Linked DNA regions of Homo sapiens. The protein of the gene in region 1 interacts with the protein of each later gene in a pairwise test. Each region holds a gene or a part of one and is shown on either strand. Other genes may lie near its edges. The genes, in order: DHFR and GKAP1.

Evidence for each region.
Region 2: the proteins of DHFR (region 1) and GKAP1 interact in a two-hybrid assay, tested with the Homo sapiens proteins (one large-scale study listed by BioGRID).

The regions. Positions count from the first base shown.
Region 1 is NC_000005.10:80,644,942-80,648,764, reverse strand, and holds part of DHFR (dihydrofolate reductase), read left to right. Parts: intron 1-3,823.
Region 2 is NC_000009.12:83,804,105-83,807,927, forward strand, and holds part of GKAP1 (G kinase-anchoring protein 1), read right to left. Parts: intron 2,457-3,823; 5' UTR 2,414-2,456; coding exon 2,198-2,413; intron 1-2,197. UniProt on the Homo sapiens protein: Regulates insulin-dependent IRS1 tyrosine phosphorylation in adipocytes by modulating the availability of IRS1 to IR tyrosine kinase. Its association with IRS1 is required for insulin-induced translocation of SLC2A4 to the cell membrane.

The DNA.
Region 1 (3,823 bases):
TGGAGTCAGTAGTTCATGAAGCCTGGATATGCCCTGGTGACTGGAGAGTGGGAGGGGTAATCATATTAAGACTGCCCAGGAAGTCAACTCCAATGGCTTGGGAGGTTGAGGGGTGGCCAGAATTGGACCTGTGTTAATCCATTCTCATGTTCTTATAAAGAACTGCCCAAGACTGGGCAATTTGTACAGGAAAGAGGTTTAATTGACTCACAGTTCCTCATGGCTGGGGAGGCCACAGGAAATTTAAAATCATGGTGGAAGGGGAAGCAAACGCATCCTTCTTCACATGGTGGCAGGAAGGAGAAGTGCCGAGCAAAGGGGGAAAGGCCCCTTATAAAACCATCAGATCTCATGAGAACTTAACTATCACGAGAACATCATGGGGGGTACCACCCCCCATAATTCATTTATCTCCACCTGGTATCACCCTTGACATGTGGGGATTATTACAATTCAAGGTGAGATTTTGGCGGAGACACAGCCAAACCATATCAGGATCTAAGGGGAAGGTCTGGGATCTGGCATGTTAATCATTCTTAGTCTAATAATATAATCACCAAAAAGAATGCAGTATCCTAGGGCACTACTTTCTTGGGAACAGTAGTCATAGTATTCTTTTCCCATGTGTATTGGTGAAGATTCAACCAAAGAAGCAGAACCAGTAGTAGATAGATACAGGTATATTAAAGAGTTTTATTGCGAGGAATTGGCTTACACAATTATGGGGGCTGGGTACGTGAGTCCAAAAATCTGTAAAACGGGCCATCAGAAAGGACAAGCTGGAATTCTCCAGCAGGGGCTGAAGTGGTACAGGTGAAATTTCTTCAGGAAAGCCTCAACTCTACTCTTAAAGCCTTTAAACTGATTGATTCAGCCCACTCAGATTAAAGTCTGACCGGGCACAGTGGCTAACCCCTGCAATCCCAGCACTTTGGAAGGCCAAGGCAGGTGGATCACTTGAGCTCAGGAGTTTGAGACCAACCGTGCAACATAATGAAACCCCGTCTCTACAAACAAATTAGCCAGGCGTGGTGGCATGTACCTGTAGTTTCCAGGAGGCAGAGGTTGCAGTGAGCCAAGATAGTACCACTGCGCTCCAGCCTAGGCAACAGAGTGAGATCCTGTCTCAAAAAAATTTAAAAAAAAAACTGAATTGTAATCACATCTACAAAATGCCTTCAAAGCAACACCTAGATACAGTATCTGAATAACCAAGGACTATATCCTAGTCAAGTTTAACACTATGGGAAGGAAAGAACTACACAGCTATATAGGCTAAGGGGATTCAGGCTTACATAGATTTTCTCCCAAGTTCTTCCTAGAATGGCATAGGTAAAAACCGAGAAGAAAGTGTATAGAATATTTGCATTGATTGCCTCTGGGCGACGGGGCAGATTTGTTGATGTGCATCTTGCTGCCTGCTTCCATCTTCATGCTGTTCTTTCTTCTGGTTGCTAGGATGCTCTGATTATCTCTTTCCTTGGTAGATTTCAAATTCACAGACTATATCGCCATTCCAAGAAACTCTTTAATGATATTTTTGAATACTACTCAAGTTTGTTTATGGCTAGCTTAAGCTCAAACAGAAAGAAATCTCAGTGGGGGAGATGTTCACTTGAGCCAGCATTTCTCCTCGAATATGATGAGTGTAATTTTTTTTTACGACCTTCCTGTGATGCATGTAATTGGGTTTGGTTGCTTCTTCTGTATTTATATATAACATATGTTGGTGTCTTGTGCTTTTTTTTTTAAGGCTGAGAAAATTTAAAGTCTTTGTTATCAAGCATGCCAGGGAAATAGTGATACCAGTTAGTAAAAAATGTTAGAGCTCTTTTTTGTTGTTGTTCTTCCTTCCACTTCCTTACTTGTTGGTCAGTCCCACACATATAGTGAACAGCTGCTGAGTGCCAGGCACTGCAGGGTCCTGAATAAGAGGGCAGAGATTTATACATGGAAATCACTTGCTTATGCCAACTCTAAAGATACTTCATTTTTCACCCCTCTCCCCCAATGTAAGAAGAAACTGAATCCTCAAAGTGATCACAAAATTTTCTACCAAACACTATAGTAATTTAGGGTAAATATTTCTTAAGTAAGGTATTGAGGGAAAATGCTTTTCCAAAGTTGTCTAGACAGTCAAGTTGTGGCTTTAAAAGAACTTGAGGTGAGAAGGGTGGGAATGGCCACTGATGAGTACAGAATGTTTTCTTTTTTGGTGTGATGGAACTGTTCTAAAAGTAGATAGGAGTGATGCTTGCTCGACTCTGAATCTACTAAACGTCACTGAACTATACACTTTAAAAGGGTAAATGTTATGGTGTGTGATTTATATCAATAAAGTGGCTTTTAAAAGTCTTTGGAACCAGCCGGGCACAGTGGCTCACATCTGTAATCCCAGCACTTTGGGAGGCCGAGGTGGGCAGATCACGAGGTCAGGTGTTCGAGACCAGCCTGGCCAACATAGCAAAACCCCGTCTCTACTGAAAATACAAAAATTAGCCAGGCGTGGTGGCAAGCACCTGTAATCCCAGCTACTCGGGAAGCTGAGGCAGGAGAAGCTCTTGAACCAGGAGGCAGAAGTTGCAGTGAGCCAAGACTATACCACTGCACTCCAGCCTGGGCAACAGAGCAAGACTCCGTCTCAAAAAAAAAAAAAAAACCTCGTTGGAACCAAAAATTAAATAAACAAGTTTTACTGTAATGCTATAGTAGCCTGGACACCATCTTTAGAAAATCCAAAATTGCCTCCATTATGTAAGATTTAAATAGTCTCCCATCCACGAAAGTTAACTTAATTTCATGTTATAATTTTTTACGATCTCACTATCAGAATCTCCACAGTGATTAAAACTTCTTGAAGGTGCAGTTCTCTCTCCCCCTACCACTCACACACTTGGAGTAGCAAACACTGACCTGGTTTCTGATGTCTACTATGGCACCTAATAACTTTGTGACTTTAGGCAGGTTACAAGTAAGCCTTGTTGAACCTCTTTCCTTACCTATTAAATGAGATGAATAATGACAACTTTTTTGGGTGATTTTGAAGACTCACTGAAATTTTGTATGTAAAGTTTCTGGCACACAGAAGGGTATAGATATCAGTTCCTACCCCCACCCCCATAAACTTGCTACTTTATATCTTATAGAACATACACATTAATATTAATATTAATGAAATCACAGTGAACAGACTCATGATCTCATTTTCACCTTAACATATTACTTTGTTCTTGTTTCCCTCCATCTTGAGACAAAAATCCACTGCCACCTAAATCAACTCTCTCATCTCCCCTGACTTGATTCTGGATTCCTTTTTTTCTATCTTCACCTTGCTCTGCTGTCCCAACCTTTTAGTATTATCAAAGGCAAAATAAAAATTTTGCGATGAATTCTCTAAATTTAACATTGTGTTTGGGAAGAAAAAATTGCAGTTTAGGGCATACATGCAGACAAGTGACCTTCCATATGTCTGAAGAACAAAGGGAAGGTTAGAGGTTTTATTTAAAAGGAGAAATGTTACTGCTCTTTGAGAAAGTTCATTGGCACTACTAAGGTTTGGGGGAGCTAGCAAGCTCCGACTGGCGAGCAGTGAGTGGTGGGCAAAATCAGTTCTAGAGTTGCAGCAAGTTATCTCAGAAGCTATAGATAAAACTGGTTTCAGGTTACAACAAGCAGTTCCAGCAGTCAGGCTTACAGAGAATTACATTCTTGGAGCAATGTTTTATACCCTGAGTGCTTTTTTCCCCTGGCCCCTCAACTCTGATTTAGTTGGGTATGACAAGAATGACCCACTGTCACCCAGGCCAGAGGGCAGTGGTGTGAT
Region 2 (3,823 bases), on another chromosome or scaffold:
CCGTCCGGGAGGGAGGTAGGGGGGTCAGCCCCCCGCACGGCCAGCCGCCCCGTCTGGGAGGTGAGGGGCGCCTCTGCCCAGCCGCCCCTACTGGGAAGTGAGGAGCCCCTCTGCCGGGCCAGCCACCCCGTCCGGGAGGGAGGTGGGGGGCTCAGCCCCCCGCCCGGCCAGCCGCCCCATCTGGGAGGGAGGTGGGGGGGTCAGCACCCCGCCCGGCCAGCCGCCCCATCCGGGAGGGAGGTGGGGGGGTCAGCCCCCCGCCCGGCCAGCCGCCCCGTCCGGGAGGGAGGTGGGGGGGGTCAGCCCCCCGCCCGGCCAGCCACCCCGTCCGGGAGGTGAGGGGCGCCTCTGCCCGGCCACCCCTACTGGGAAGTGAGGAGCCCCTCTGCTCGGCCAGCCGCCCCGTCCGGGAGGGAGGTGGGGGGGTCAGCCCCCCGCCCAGCCAGACGCCCCGTCCGGGAGGGAGGTGGGGGGGTCAGCCCCCGGCCCGGCCAGCCGCCCCATCCAGGAGGGAGGTGGGGGGGGTCAGCCCCCCGCCTGGCCAGCCGCCCCGTCCGGGAGGGAGGTGGGGGGGTCCAGCCCCCCGCCCGGCCAGCCGCCCCGTACGGGAGGGAGGTGGGGTCAGCCCCCCGCCGGGCCAGCCACCCCGTCCGGGAGGTGAGGGGCGCCTCTGCCCGGCCGCCCCTACTGGGAAGTGAGGAGCCCCTCTGCCTGGTCAGCCGCCCCGTCCGGGAGGGAGGTGGGGGGTCAGCCCCCCGCCCGGCCAGCCGCCCCGTCCGGGAGGTGAGGGGCGCCTCTGCCCGGCCGCCCCTACTGGGAAGTGAGGAGCCCCTCTGCCCGGCCACCACCCCATCTGGGAGGTGTACCCAACAGCTCATTGAGAACGGGCCGGGATGACAATGGCAGTTTTGTGGAATAGAAGGGGGGGAAAGGTGGGGAAAAGATTGAGAAATCGGATGGTTGCCGTGTCTGTGTAGAAAGAAGTAGACATGGGAGACTTTTCATTTTGTTCTGTACTAAGATAAATTCTTCTGCCTTGGGATCCTGTTGATCGGTGACCTTACCCCCAACCCTGTGCTCTCTGAAACGTGCTGTGTCCACTCAGGGTTAAATGGATTAAGGGCGGTGCAAGATGTGCTTTGTTAAACAGATGCTTGAAGGCAGCATGCTCGTTAAGAATCATCACCACTCCCTAATCTCAAGTACCCAGGGACACAAACACTGCGGAAGGCCGCAGGGTCCTCTGCCTAGGAAAACCAGAAACCTTTGTTCACTTGTTTATCTGCCGACCTTCCCTCCACTATTGTCCTATGACCCTGCCAAATCCCCCTCTGCGAGAAACACCCAAGAATGATCAATAAAAAAAATAAAAAATAAAAAAAAAACCATGTAATTAAATATTGTAAACTGTGGATTCATTTAAAATAACAGAGATCTGTATTTACCAATATGGAAAACTGCTCATGGTTAATTTTTTTTAAAAGCCAGTTATAAAACAGTCTATTATATAACCCCATTTTCATTTAAGTATTAGAAGGATATATACATACATGTATATATTCATATAAATTTATATATGTGTACAGAAAACACATACCAAAATATTAATTGGTTATATCTCTGGTTATATCTATAAATGACCTGTTTCCTTTTAAGACTTTCCTATTTTAAACTTTATGCAATGAACACACAAACTTCCAGTCAGAAAAAACGTACTTTAAAAATGTTCAGGCAGGGTGTGGTGGCTCACGCCTGTAATCCCAACCCTTTGGGAGGCTGAGGCAAGCAGATTGCTTGAGCCCAGGTGTTCAAGACCAGCCTATGCAACATGGCAAAACTCCATCTCTACAAAAAACGCAAAAATTAGCCAGGCATGGCAGTGTGTGCCTGTGGTCCCAGCTACTTGGGAGGCTAAGGTGTGAGGCTACCTTGAGCCTAGGAGGTTGAGGCTACAGTGAACTGTGATCATCCCACTGCACTCCAGCCTAGGTGACAGAGTGAGACCCTGTCTCAAAAAAAAAAAAAGATCATTACATTTGATTTTAAATATACACAAATTCACATCCATTCATTGAAGTAATATTTTCAGAGTACCTGTGGAACAGGTACTATGGATACACAGGGGAACAAGATAGTATCTGTTCTCAGGATGATTACCATCTACTGGGAAAGCAGACAACACAGATAATTGTGTTACCTCATTTGCTTCACTCTGTTGCTGTTCCTTCTTTTTTCTTCTTTTCTCTCTTTTTTTCTCATTTGTAGTTGACTTGCTTCCTAAAGTTTGAGACTTTCCAGTATTTCGACCTTTACCTTTTCCAGGTTCAGAATCAGAGCCACTGCCACTATCCACTTGTAACAGGGCAAAACGAGAAGCGGTGGTGGGAACAGAACTAAGTACTGCTGAGGCCATCGTAAAGATTTTTCTTTTAAAATACTTCTGTCAAGAATAATTTCTGTGGGGAGGCAGAAGAGTAGGCAGATGGGTAAACAAACAGAGTAAAATCTGTTGTAGATTCTAAAACAACCATATGTAGATAAAATAAATTTCTTCTGACACTGGATTTAGTAAATTTGGATTAATACCCACAGCACTATTAGCAATAACATACTTTTATATTTAAGTAAACGATATAACATTTTACAATAGAAAAATATGAGATTTCACAGATATAATGTACTCATTTTTCCATGTATACTTTAAAAATTCACAGTCTTCCTCTCTCAATCATTCTGAAATATATACATAGTTATAGAGAACATCCTAAATCAATATGGTTTACAGTGGAAAAGAATATCATTTTTTCATGATACACAAAAAAAAGACCTTTAGTCCAACTACATGTTAACTCCCAACTTCCAATACAAGAAAAAAAGGAGTAAAGACGGAATACCACTCTTATCATATATAAAATACTACCATAGGTTTGATTCTAGAGACTGTGATTTAGAACTGACAGCAAAAATAAAGAGCTTAAATTCTCTCAACCAAAGGAAACTTTTCAAAATGCCTTCCACATTATGTTTAGTTCACTAGTTTCCATGCAAGCATAGGTCAGTGTAGCTTCATTCCATGTGCTGTCAGCTTTTCCACAACCGTTTAGACTTAGAAGGGATCTTAAAAGTCCCCTAGTAGTTCCTAATCCAAATCCTTTAGTTATACAGCTAAGGTAAGTGGAGTTTAAGTTGGTTATGTGACTTCCCTTAGTTCTTTCTGGAAGTTAGCGGCTGAGTCTCCACCTGGACCTAGATTTGTTGAACCTTATTCTGAAAGTCCAAATTAAGAAGCCCTGTAACAACCAGAAGACTAAGTGCTCTTCTAATTAAAAAAGACAAAGATTGTCTTAACAGAATGGCAACTCAGAAATTTGTATTTTGAAATGTTTCAGGTAAAAACTGAATATTCAATTTGAAAAAATTAAGATGAACACTCCAAGTAGCCAGCACAAAGGTTAACAAAACGTTAACTGACTCCTATGCTTCTCTCCAATTGCATTCCCCCACTGCACCAGCCAGAGATAACAAGTATCCTGATTTTTGTATAACTTACTCCTTTGCTTTTCTTTATAGTTCTATTCTATGCCTTGATTCACAGTGATCATATTTGAATGAACTGCTGTCATTTCCACAATATCCCACTGGTTACATATATATTTCTTACTATATTCACATTATCACACAGGTCCACCCTATTCATTGCAGGAAAGGGCTATGTAAAGGTGAATACTAAGAAGTAAGGATCATTAAGATCCATTCTGAAAGCTAACCACACATTATCGTTTGTATGTTTTCAGGAGGGAAGAAAAATGAGAAGTATGTATTC